Homo sapiens: one gene and its partner. The protein of the gene in region 2 purifies or fractionates together with the protein of the main gene of each other region. This does not show direct contact. Each region holds a gene or a part of one and is shown on either strand. Other genes may lie near its edges.

Region 1 (8,715 bases), on a different chromosome or scaffold from region 2:
TTACGTATAATGTTAAATTCAGGAGTTCAGTGTTTTACTAATATATCCTGTTTTGAAACCTCTTGTTCGAAAACAAAATGTTTTGAGCAATCAACCAAAATTGTTCCTTTTCTTTTCCTGTAGATGTTCTGACAGATTTGCAGGGCTTTCGGCTCACTGTGCTAGTATGTAAAAAGGTGTTGTTTACACGAGGCAAAGAGAAAACATGCTATTCAGACAGTTGCCAAATAGAATAATTATAGCACAAATACTGTAAAGGTGCCTGGCACCAGCAACCTGAGAAAGTGTTAAAAAAAAAAAAAAAAAAGTGTTACAAGATTTAAAAAAAAACATCTTTGCTAATTTTTTTGTCCTGTTGAACATTCATGGAATTGTTAATATGACTTATATAGACCCACACAGGTTTTATTTTTGTGTCTTTAAAATAAAAGTCCAAAATATTTAAATTTTATGGTCAAATATGCAGTCAACAGCTGCTACTTTTTCTTTATATATTAAATTTCTCATATGTCTTTTATTGTTCTAATAAACCTAAGCTTGTGTGACCTCCAGTGCATATTAGACCATTCACTGTATGAAAGAAAACATGTTGAATAAATTTGTGAGTTTTTAATAAAAATAGAAAATCTGATGTTTAGATAATTGGTGTGTTATTTGATGTTTTCAAAGGGGAACCCTGATGGGGAGCTGAATGGGTCCTCAGAAGCCAGGTGGAAAAGAGAGGCAGGATTGGGATGATATATCTGTTTTTGCCTTGGCTATGGCTGAAACCTTTTGCTAATGCCAGCCAAGCTTTTCTCTGTGGCTTCCTGCTGTTATTAGCTACAGATTTACATCCTGTGGATTTAACTGATACCGTTGAAGAGATGTTTGCTGATAAGTTAATATAGAATTTGAAATAGAAATCAAATCCATGGCTAAAAAATGAGTGGTCCAGGTCTGTGATTAGGCATAAGATCCAAGGCATTCCCTCTTTCACTCTCCCTGCACATGCAAAACTGGGCTTGTATCAGATACTTGTAATACATAGTTAGAGGTGGTCCTTTTCAGTTTCATTTCATTTCCTATAGATAATCCGGCTTTCTAATTTGGTAGTTTGAAAGATAATGTAAAGGCTTTCTAATTTGGTGGTTTGAAAGATAATGTAAAATGAATGTATAGTACAGCTAGAAATGAAATACTTTAATCCCTTTCACAGAACTGATATGAAATTGTTGTTTTATAGTATTTGTTACCTTTGAAGTTCCCCAGAAGGAAAACTATTTTGCCTGGCACAAGATACATATTAAGTTTCTCTGAAAGATGAACAAAAATAACTAATATCAAAATCAAATTTCAACTCAAAAGGTTCTAAAAGTAGCTCGATTCTTTCCAGTCCTTCATTAGACTTGGAAGAAATTTGAATATTTTATCTACTATGAAATATTCTTGTGGATGTGTGTGTGTTTCAGTATCAGATGCTATTAGAGTTCCAGGATTTCTTTTCCATATCACCTAGATTTCACTCTGGATTATTTATTTCCTTATTTAAAAAGTCAAAGGTTTGACATTAAATGGTATATAATTTCCAGTGCTGTTTTCAAATTTTGTTAAGACACAGCCAAGTTTATCTTTCCTGCAGAGAAGGCTTTAAAATAAGCAATATTTCACTGCATCCATATGATGGCTTATCTAATGGGGGAGGAGGCTATCCGGGAGGAATCTGGCAGTGTTCTTTCAGAAATAAAAATGTATGAAATACAGAGGAGACTTTTGAAACTCCCAGCCTCTGCATGCAGCACATTTCTTTATTTGCTTTATATGCAATCACTGGATCGGCTTGTTTTTACCTTTTTAGCATTTATACACATTAAATCCTAGCTAACTTATTCATTATAGCCTCTACTCCCTAGCCCCCTTTAAAGACATTCATTTAAATGAACTGCGCTCACTGGGAAGCTGCATTTTCCTATCAAGGCTGCTGAATTATTTAGCAGCTTTATTGTGCAATCGGGGTATTTGATAAGAAGCGTTTTCGAGTTGGGCACACGATGTGGATTCGATTCTTCTAACAACGTGGTTGTGGCGCAGTCTCTCCCCTCGTCGCGGGATTCAGAATCCTGGCGAAAACCCGAACAGGTGGCAACGCTCAGCAGTCAAATTTGGAGCCGAAGGCCCCAAGGAGGAGGCCTGGAAATGTCAGGGCCTGTTCTCCTTCCCATCAGTGCTGTGCCGCCCACCTCTGGCCCCGAGGTGCGGGGACGTGCGGCACCATACCTAGGCGGAGCTCCCGCAGGAGGCGCAGCAGGAGGGAAGCGCCACTGCAGTCCCCTCTCGCCTGGGAGGGCAGCCTGGTTTCTCCCTGTGGCCATCTTAAAGCCACCACCTCTGTGCCTCTCGCCACCTGCCTTCAGGGTTCCAGCAGCAGGGAGCCACCATCTGCTCTGGCGAGGGAGCTGAAGCTCACCCACCCAACTTCTCCGGGCTGGCTGCCGCTGGTAAGCTGCTCTAGGTGAGGCACTTGGGGAAGTATTACCTGTGGAGAGCCAGGATAGGCATTGCCAGGGCTGGCACCTGAGGGTGGACAGCATCTGAAGAGAGGCAAGTGGGAACTTGGTTTTCCCAAACTCTTGAAACTCCTTGTCAAGTGAGCAGACAGTTGTTTGGGACAATTGGAAAGTGTCACCCCTTGCCCATCCTCTGCTGTGCCTAATCGCCTGCCACTTTGCAGCCCTTGGAGGGCAGGGAGAGGGATTGTGGACTGGGCGCCCCTCCGCCTTCTCTGGAGAAGGCCATTCTGTTAGGGAACTGCTCACCCTTATTCTCCTCTCCCTGTTCCTCTCATCTGCTCTCATCTCTACATCAGTCAGAGGTTGAAACTCCTCGCCACAGTCCACTCTCCATCTCCATCCCTACCCCATCAATAAGCCCTTCCCCCACCATCTCAAGACACTGGAATGCAGGTAGGGAGAGGCCCCCAGAGGGAGTATTTGAGAATTTGCTCCCCTGTCCCTTGCCTCAACTACTCTCAGTTGCATCTTAATTCCTAGAATTACTTCCTCTTCCCTCCACTCCTGGAGTCCTCTTTCTACCTTCAGTATAAGGTCAGGCAAACATTTTGGGGGGCCCTGGGATGTGTGTGACAGTAGAACGGTCTTGATTCCTTGCTAAAATGGCTTCCCAAGTCAGTAGGGACCAGGACAGAGAAGGGAGAGTAAGTAAACAGGTCTATGGCATTTTCTGCTGAGTGTTTGCCCAGCACAGCCCCCAAATTGACCAGCAGTGTCCTGTTTGCATGACAGCTTAGAGGTGGTCTCTGCAGTGACTCACCTCCCTTTCTCTTTTCTTCCTTCTCTTTACCTCAAAGGCCAGGTTTCTAAGCATTGTAAGTACCCAACATAGCAAGGGGATAGGATTGCAGGAGGTAGTTTCTTAAATGTGGGGTGGGAGAAACATTTTTGTCCTTTGAAGCCCCATGGCACCTTGTCAAGGAGCAAGGAACACACTTTTGCTTGGGAGGCCCGGACACAGGCACAAGACTGCAATTATAGAGGATAAACGAAAAACTGTTCTCTTAGGCTAAGCTCTCTTATGGATGGTAAAAAGCCGTTTTCTTCTCCTGAGTGCCCTGCCTAGCCTGGCATTCTTTTCCTTCCATGTCTGAGGGGGTTTACCCTCAGACAGGTTCTCCTTCCCCTCTGCAGCCCTGGTTGTCTTCATTCTTCAAGGGCCACTTTACAGGGACATGGAACAGGCTCCACTAAAGTGGTGTCCTCTTATTGCTCTTGGCCCTGAGGACATATGAAGATTGTGAAAGTCAGAGATCCTCTCTTCCCTTGGTTTTCATGGGAGACAGTAGAGAGCTGAGGGTTCCCCAGTTGTTCAGCTGTGGGATCCAACTGGCCCGGGCTGTACCCAAGGGGCACTGCCACAGTGCACCACTAACATCTCTTTTCTGGATCCTTTTGAGGCAGATTCTGTTTAGAGGGGTCTAGGTCTCTACAGGCAACCTCCAACAGATACCATAAGAATAGACCACTTTGTAGTCACACTTATCATCCCTTATTGCAGTTTCTGTTTACATGTTTGTCTACCCTCCTAGGCTGATTACCGTGGGGGGGAGAATCCAACTTACTTATCTTGTATCTTATCTAGCAGTGCCTGCCACATAGTGGGCAGTCAGGGAATGCTTGATGAAGGAAAGAGGATGTAAAGCGATTGTGTCTTTCCGTGTGCGGGGTGCAATTACATTTATACTATTAAGTCTTTATATTTTGAGTCTGTCCCTCTAACGGTAGACCTGTATTTTTCTGCATTTGTGCACCTGCTTAAGCTGCCTGAGCATGCCCTCATCTCTGAACAGCAAAGATAATCAATACCGAGGGGTATGCAGTGGAGTAATCCACACCCCACCCCCTTTCCCTTGCTCAGGCAAGGGTACTTAGAGACGCTACTGAAACTATCTTTAGCCACAGCGATTCCTAAGTATTCCCATTAAGAAAGACGCCAGCAGTCCGCCACACACTTACACGTGCATATCCCTGACATAGGATTCCCAAATCCTGGCCGCTGAAGGGCGGGAGGCGTGTGCCCGGCCTCAGACTACTATAAATTGCGAAATGACAAACCTGCTTTGGGTCCCAGTCTCTGCGTGCCCGAGTGCGCACCCGCGATTCGAGCAGCTTAAGCCCTACTCCCTCCTCCTTCCCAAATCAGCCACCGTGGGCCACGGCTACGCTATGCTTTATTCCTAAGCGAATCTCGCACAAATCTCGAGGCATATTTTGTACAAGGGGACACTGGCCGCGCGCATCGCAATCGCATCTCAGCGACAGAAGCGGTCACGTGCCTTGGCGCGCTTCCGCACCGCCCCTTCCCGCGCACTCGCACGCGCACGCGCACACGCGCCCATACGGCTCCAATCCCTTCAACCTTCTGCGCGCTTCCGCCTTCATGCTAGCAACGCCCGCAGTGACGCGCAGGCCCCGCCCCCTCCCGCGCGCCTCCCGGAAGTGGCCGGTCCAGAGCTGTGGGGTGGCCTCCGCGCGGTCTCTGGCGGAGTCGGGGAATCGGATCAAGGCGAGAGGATCCGGCAGGGAAGGAGCTTCGGGGCCGGGGGTTGGGCCGCACATTTACGTGCGCGAAGCGGAGTGGACCGGGAGCTGGTGACGATGGCGGGGCCGCAGCCCCTGGCGCTGCAACTGGAACAGTTGTTGAACCCGCGACCAAGCGAGGCGGACCCTGAAGCGGACCCCGAGGAAGGTGAGGCCGGACTGGGGCAGGCCACGTGCGGAGCGGTGGGCCAGGCCCTGTGGGGCAAGGGGGCGGCGTGGGAGGGGCGTGCGCGAGGCCGCCGGGCCTGCGCTCCTTCGCTTGGCGCAGAGGAACGTCGCCTCCCGCGAGGGTGGTCCCGGCCTCGGGAGGAGGGCTTCGGCTTCTTTTCACACGCACTCGAAACTTGGTGCTCGGCTGGATGGGCGGAACAGATCGAGGGCTCAGGCCGAGAGGAGCTGGTCTTCAGGTTTACTTGCTCCAGGCCTGTTGGAGGGAGCCAGAGAGTCTGCTAGCAAGTTGGAAGTTAGCTTTGAGGATGCCCTTTCTGGTATTGCGTTAGAAAGGAGGAGAAGAAAGTCGCATGTTTTTAATTCAGGTTGCCCTTCAAAACTAAGTTGGAGACTGATGGAAGGATTTTCTGGTGCTGTTTAAGTCTCTTGAAGTCTCAAGACACTTGTTCAGTGGCTGACGACTGAGACTCCTGTTCTGTAAGCTGATGTTCAGAGTCTAGCTGGGAGTAATCCCGCTTTAGACTTGAGTCGGAAGTGTGAGAAAGGGATAATAAGGAGGGATAAATGCGAGTGCTGAACCGTATCTTAGGAAGATCAGTTGAAGAAACTCGGGACTGTTTAGCCAGAATAAGCAAAGAAAACTCCCCAAAGAATGGGACAGAGTGAGGGGAGAACGTGATGACTGATTTAAGATATTGGAGCGACTGTCACACATTGAAGAGGAATTCAACTAGTTTGATAGGATCCAAGTCATAGAAATAGATCCCACTAGTAGATGCCAGGAGTCAACTTTCTGTTTAGAAACAGCAGTAAGACAGTGTTCTACTTTGGGAGAGAGTGAATTTCCTATTCCTGGAAGTTGGTGGGGATTTCGTAAAGGACGTTCAACTATGAGATAAATGGGTCGACCAGGGTTCCCGTTAAAGTTTCTGCTAACCTGGAGATTCTGTTTACTTTTCCCTCTCCCCCGACAGCCACTGCTGCCAGGGTGATTGACAGGTTTGATGAAGGGGAAGATGGGGAAGGTGATTTCCTAGTAGTGGGTAGCATTAGAAAACTGGCATCAGCCTCCCTCTTGGACACGGACAAAAGGTATTGCGGCAAAACCACCTCTAGAAAAGCATGGAATGAAGACCATTGGGAGCAGACTCTGCCAGGATCGTCTGGTGAGTAGACATTTTTGAATGGAACTCTTCTCTTCCCTAATTTTTTCAGGGTTAAAATCCTCCGGTCATCCCCCATGATCTTTGCAAGAGTAGTCTGCGGATCTTTTTTTTGAGACAGAGTTTGGCTCTTGTTGCCCAGGCTGGAGTGTGATGGCGCCATCTCGGCTCACCGCAACCTCCACCTCTGGAGTTCAAGCGAGGCTCCTGCCTCAGCCTCCCGAGTAGCTGGGATTACAGGCATGCACCACCACGCCCGGCTAATTTTGTATTTTTAGTAGAGACGGGGTTTGTCCATGTTGGTCAGGCACCCCTATCTGTTATCTTAGGAGAGACCATTGATTTGGTATTAGAAAGGGTCTTAGAGGTTACTTCATTTCACTTCATAAGGAATCTAAAGCCCAGAGTGATTAAGTTGCTATACTCCTTATGTTCGGACTAATGGCTCACCCTACAGTGGAGTGACAGAGAAGGCAGTGCATTTTGGCTACTGGAGAGGGTTATGAGCTGAAAAACCACTGTGTCTGATGAACATGTTATCCTTGAATTGTGACCCCTGACCTTTGGTTTTCCAGGACTTGCATTGAAGCACTGTGTGATATTAGTTATTTGTGAAACTCATTTTTTGCCATTCTAAAAAATCACATAATCCTTCTCTTCCCTGCAAAAGAGTTAGGAGTCTGTGCGCTTATAGTTTTAAAGAATTGTAAATTTCTCAGAGTGGAAGAAGGGGCTAGATATGGTGATTATTGGGAGAATGTCATTTGTTTTCCTTTAGAAAGGTCAGGGGTGTCATGTTGAGAATCCACAGATAATATAAAAGGAACTATCATTTAGGTTATGATATCTATGATTTAGTCCTTGATGTAGTTCTGGGAGCTCCTGATAAGCTCATTTCATATTCTTTGCCTAGAGACTGATAAAGGGACCAATCATGAGACAAATATGATAATATTTATTGAGTTCTTACCATGCGTCAGGCACTGAGTTTAGCTCTATAATTTAAGTTCTAAGAGCCTGGGACACAGTAAGTCCTCAAAAAAAAAATTATAAAATTACCTGGAATTAGACAGATTTTTATAAAAAATTATCACCATTATCACTACATGTGTCACCTAATTTAATCCTCCCAATTGCGCAGGAAGTTATTACTACTTAGCCCCATTTTACAGATAAGGAAATCGAGGGGCAAATTGGTTACATAAGTTTGCTCAAGGTCATATAGTTAGTAAGTGGAAGAAACATGATTCAAATGTAGGCTGTCTGACTCCAAGATGTACACTCTAGTAAACTCTGTATGAATGTTTCTTAATCTGAGAAATGGCGTACATTCAAAGAATTTAAATAATAATTTCTGTTTACTGTTTTGGCACTTAGTTTTTGTATTTATATTTTTGGCAGCTTTGTGTCTTAAGTTTATATATACCTTTTTAAAGAAGCGCTGAAGACCTGTCACGCTTTCCTAAAATCTTTATTTTATTGAAGAAAGTTTTTGGAAACTGGTCCCTCTATCTTAGAATCATACTTGAAACACATGGGGCTTTTATGTTCTACCATGGAACAGATTGGATAAACTGTAAAAACCTCTACATATCAGATGATACTCTAAGCATAAGTCAAACAAAGAGCCTTAACTAGCACTCTGTCTACTATAGGATCAAGTTCAGAGTCCTCATGAAAGACGAGACCTTTCCTGATTAGTCTCATCTCCCATCACTTCCTTGTGCATCCTGCACTCCAGTGCGTTTTCCCTTCATTATCTATGAGCTGTTGCCTTATGCTTCATAAGTAAAATTATAATGTCTCCTTCTCCACATGATACCATCCCCCACCTTTCCAGGAGAGTTAGGTGGTTCCATCTCCATACACTGTGTACTAATGACCTTGTAATATAATTATTGGCATGCATATCTACCACTCCCACCAGACCATGAACTCCTCCCAGCAAGTATTAAATTCTATTTGCCTTTCCTTAGCCCCTGGCTCATAATGAGTGCTTAATAAGTATTTAGTAAATAGGGCAGACGGATGTGATAGATTGTACATTTTTTCAGATCAGGTTTGGGAAAACTGGTAATTCTCTAACACCAGTTGAAATCTTACTGTTCTTCAAGGGCCAGAGCAAATGCTAGCTCTTCCTTAGAGATTAGCTTAAATTCACTTGCCCCACAGTTAAAATTTCTCACTCTTCTGGGTTATTGAAATTTTGTCAAAGCACTTCTGATGCTTCCTTGAGTTGTAATGTTGTGAGTCTGTCTTTCCCACTAGCTCCTTTTGTTAGGGTAGGA
Region 2 (4,004 bases):
TTTGACAGAAAAGTCATGGTTCTTCCCTTTGAGAGTCCCCTGGCCATTACCCTTGCAGTGCATGTCCCACAGACCAGGAGGGCCATCTCTTAGGCATGGATCTCTTCACTCTTTGTATTTGTCAGCCATGCCAGGGCACTGGGCCTGTCATGGAGAAGGGCTTGAGGGAACAGTCCAGAAGCTGCCACTGGCTGAGACTTGCTTATGGGCTTTCATCATTCAGCCCTCAGGATGACAGCATAAGGGGGCTGTTTTATTACTGTCATTGCTTTAAGATGAAGTAACAAGGCTCTCAGGGGTTAAGTTCCCAAGAAGCACACAGCTAGTGAGAGCCGGAGCCAGAATCAAGTCCAGGTTTCTCCACTGCAAGGCCATAGGTTTAACTGTTACGTTGTCCTTCCTTTGAGCCAGCAGTTCTCAAGGTTTTGGGTCTTTGAGTTCCTTTATCTCTTAACAATTAAGGTCCCCAAAGGACTTTTGTTGGTTATATCTATGGAAATTTCCCATATTAGAAATGAAAAACTGGCCAGGTGCAGTGGCTCACGCCTGTAATCTCAGCACTTTGGGAGGCCGAGGTAGGAGGATCGCTTGAGCCCAGGTGTTCAAGACCAACCTGCGCAACATAGCAGACCCTGTCTCTGCAAAAAAATTTTAAAAAGAAAATAAATGAAAAACTGAGAAATTTAAAAAAAATTCATTTGTTCACAGTAATAACGGACTCAGTCGTTTTGAAAAATACTCTTTTTCATAAAAATTTTGGTGAGAAGAGTGGCATTGTTTTACATTTACATTTTTGCAAATCTCTTCAATATCTGGCTTAACAGAAGGCAGCCGGATACTAATGTCTGTGTCTTCACTGACACTATTTTGCTGTCATATCTTATACTCTCTGGAAAACTGAATATTTGTGAGAGAATGAAAATGAAAAAAGGCAAATAACTGTTTTCATACTAATCCAAATACATTTTGACCTTGTGGACACCTGAAAGGGTCTTAGGGACCCCAGCAGTCCCTAGACCACTCTTTGAAAATCTTCACTCCAAGCTTCTTATCTGCAGAGTGGTGCATTTGTAAATAACTTAGGCTGGAACCTTCATCAGTTTTCCCTGGGAGTACAATGAGGCCTCCCCTGCCCAGAGCCACTGGAATTGAGGCTTTCACAGCTGATTTGGGGGTTGATGGGGAGGGTGAGATTTTGGCAATCCCCTATTTATTGGTTTCCTTAAAAGCTTATATTTTGGAAACATTCGGGAAGAGGAAACCTTGTGTCTCTAGGAACTATAGATCCCAGAAATCAGGTACTGTCTTCCAGAGTCTCCGTTAGTCACTGTGGCATCTTGAAGGATCCAGCATCGATGCCGGCCTCATTTCCCAGATGCTTTGTGGTGCAGCACAGAAGCCCACTGTCAGTGTGACCTGTCTCTGTTTTGTACAGTATGGCAAATGTAGCACAGGGCCCATGATGGCTTTGGCCTTGAGCACGGTGGCTTTGACTGGAACAAAAGGCCGGGGAGCATGCTTGCTGTGGAGACGGCCTCAGCTCCTCACTCTGCAGAGCTTGGCCTTTCCTGCCATTTGTTTGGCCATTGCTGGTAGTGAGAAGCCTCTCGAGCCCAACAAACCAGTGTTGTGTGGTTGTTCATGTGCTTGATGGCTCTGAGTAAATGTGAAAGCTTGAACTTTGTGAGCTAAAAATACTGGTAGCTATCATTAAGTCCTCTGAGGCCTTTCTTTTTCTTCCTTTGAGAGGTACTTCATTCATATGATGTTAATGGTCTCTGGACTGAACTCTTCACGGTCTCCTTATAGGGAAGTATTTGTTCCCAGAGCAAAATTTAACCTGTAAGTTTCTTAATGGCAGGTGGCCGTTTGCTGAGTGATTCCTATGCCAGGATATCAATGAAGAATCCAGGGGCTGGTCGCAGGGTGTCACCTGAGTTACTGTTGTTTGGGTTTTCTTCTTCTCATATAGGAAAAATAAAATAATAGTAGCACATCAGAAAGTATGGCAGGGTTTTCCTTGGAGTCTCATGCCTTGTATTAAGGACTGTCTTCAGGGTCATTGGGATGAATATGTCTAGTTTCCAGAGTCACTGCAGTGGTGAGAGTGGTGGTGGGGAATCCTTGTGGTGCCTTAGGTCTGTCTTGGGAGAGGGGAGCAGAGTGTACTGCACCCTGAGGAGAACCCGGATTTCAGGTGTTAAGATCGAGATTTGTTCTTCCACAGACTAAGAGCTGGCTCAGGGCAGGAGCTGGTCTGTATGGTGTGTCCCCAGCCCCAGCACAATGCCTGCCCCCTAATAGGTTTGCAGAGAACATTAATGTCCAATTGGGTGGCCTACATCAAGTTTCAGACGGTGGAAACCCTTTTTGACAAAGCAAAGCAAGCTTAAAGCAGTCTCAGATGTTCAGATCTGTACATATTTCATTCTTTCTATTTTTGATTTTTCTCTAGTGACAAGAAAAGGAAGTTAGAGGCCAAACAAGAACCCAAACAGAGCAAGAAGTTGAAGAACAGAGAGACAAAGAACAAAAAAGATATGAAACTGAAGCGGAAGAAATAGTGAAGAGAAACTCGGGCATCTGTGTTTGATCATGGGAAGATACTCTCACTAACTGAACCCTCTCTGGCTGGACTGTTAAAAGCAACGAGAGGCCCCGGCACACCTGGAAGCTGGCCGCGAATTCGGCCTCTGGGCCTGTGTGTCTGTGAGCTCAACCTGGCTAAAGGCAGAGTCACTCCCAAATGGGTCTCTTTAGAACTTGATGGCTGGGCACTGCCATCTCTAGAATTGCCACGAGTCTCTCTCTTCCTGCCCAGTCCAGGGCCCTCCTTTCCTATAAGTTCATATTTTGCTTTGAGCCAGCTTTTTAGTCTCATTCCCACACATGTGGAAGCCACGTTGCCTCTCGACCGCCTGAGGCCCTTAAGTACATCGCTTTCTGGTGGTGCCCAGGAGGCTGCTGCTGGGCCGCTGGGTCTCTCTTTGTGGACTTGTACCTGGAGCAGGAGGAACTCCAGTCCGTCCCGGCATCCATGGCAGCCCGCGGTTAGGTGCGCCAGGGTTTGCTGATGTTGTCTTGTGCTGTTCCACTCTTGGCTCCAGCAGACCCACTGTCCCAGAAAAGCCTGATCCTGTAGTTTATGTAGAATGCCACATCTGCGTCCTCAAGACCTGTTTCATCCATTTGGGAAAAGATGTTGGGAAAGGCCACTTTGCTCGCAGGGGTGAGGGGAAGGATAGAGAATCTATTTTTAATAAATAACATTCTAGAAAGATCAGCTGCCTGTGAGTGTTCTGAAATCCACGCACCTGGACGTTTCTTCTGGTGGGTCTTGGCTGCCTGGTGGAATTTGGAAGGTGTTGGTATCAAGGTCAAAGGTGAGCAGTGTGTCTAGGGCTTCCCAGCCCAGGAGTCTGCGGGAGAAGTGGCAGGTGGCTATGGTCACCTCGAGGGGCTTGGTGTGGTGGCTGGAAGCCAGCTAGAACTGCCTCATTTCCTTCCCAGCTCCTTCCAGGTCACTTGGTCCCTTCCATTTGTTGGGAACAGAGGTAACCTGGTGGCTTTACACATACTTTGGTATGTTTGTTTAATGGTATCCAGGCTAATGAGTCTGCAGCCCCGATATGTTGTCTAGGTTCAGAGAAGGACAGGGAAGGAAACGGTAACTTCTCAGCCTAAGGGTATTTCATATACAGCTCCTAGGACTCGTCCCCACAGGGAGAAGAGCAGGTTCTGTATGCGACCCTAGGGCTGCTGAGGCTTGTCACCGAGGCTGTCAGGACATGAGCCTAGGGGTCTTTCGTTTCTTGGGACTGAAGTTTCCTGGCCACAGACCTCTGTTAGGTCTGTAGGAAATTTTGCTGGAGGCAGGGAGGGGGCATGAAAATAATTTTTATTTATTTTCTCAGGTGGGTGCCTGAACCTGCCTTTCAAAGAGGGTTTTCTTAGACCGTGGCCAGAAGCAGAGTCACATGCTCAAATGGTCAGAGCTGGATGGG

The links. The genes of interacting proteins can lie anywhere in the genome.
Region 1: the proteins of NAT10 (region 2) and AATF purify together in Homo sapiens (affinity purification with mass spectrometry; 3 studies listed by BioGRID and IntAct, with this or other methods). This does not show direct contact.

What each region holds. Positions count from the first base shown.
Region 1 is NC_000017.11:36,943,976-36,952,690, forward strand, and holds the start of AATF (protein AATF), read left to right. Parts: upstream 1-4,978; 5' UTR 4,979-5,150; coding exon 5,151-5,241; intron 5,242-6,238; coding exon 6,239-6,430; intron 6,431-8,715. UniProt on the Homo sapiens protein: Part of the small subunit (SSU) processome, first precursor of the small eukaryotic ribosomal subunit.
Region 2 is NC_000011.10:34,143,629-34,147,632, forward strand, and holds the end of NAT10 (RNA cytidine acetyltransferase), read left to right. Parts: intron 1-2,455; coding exon 2,456-2,564; 3' UTR 2,565-3,280; downstream 3,281-4,004. UniProt on the Homo sapiens protein: RNA cytidine acetyltransferase that catalyzes the formation of N(4)-acetylcytidine (ac4C) modification on mRNAs, 18S rRNA and tRNAs.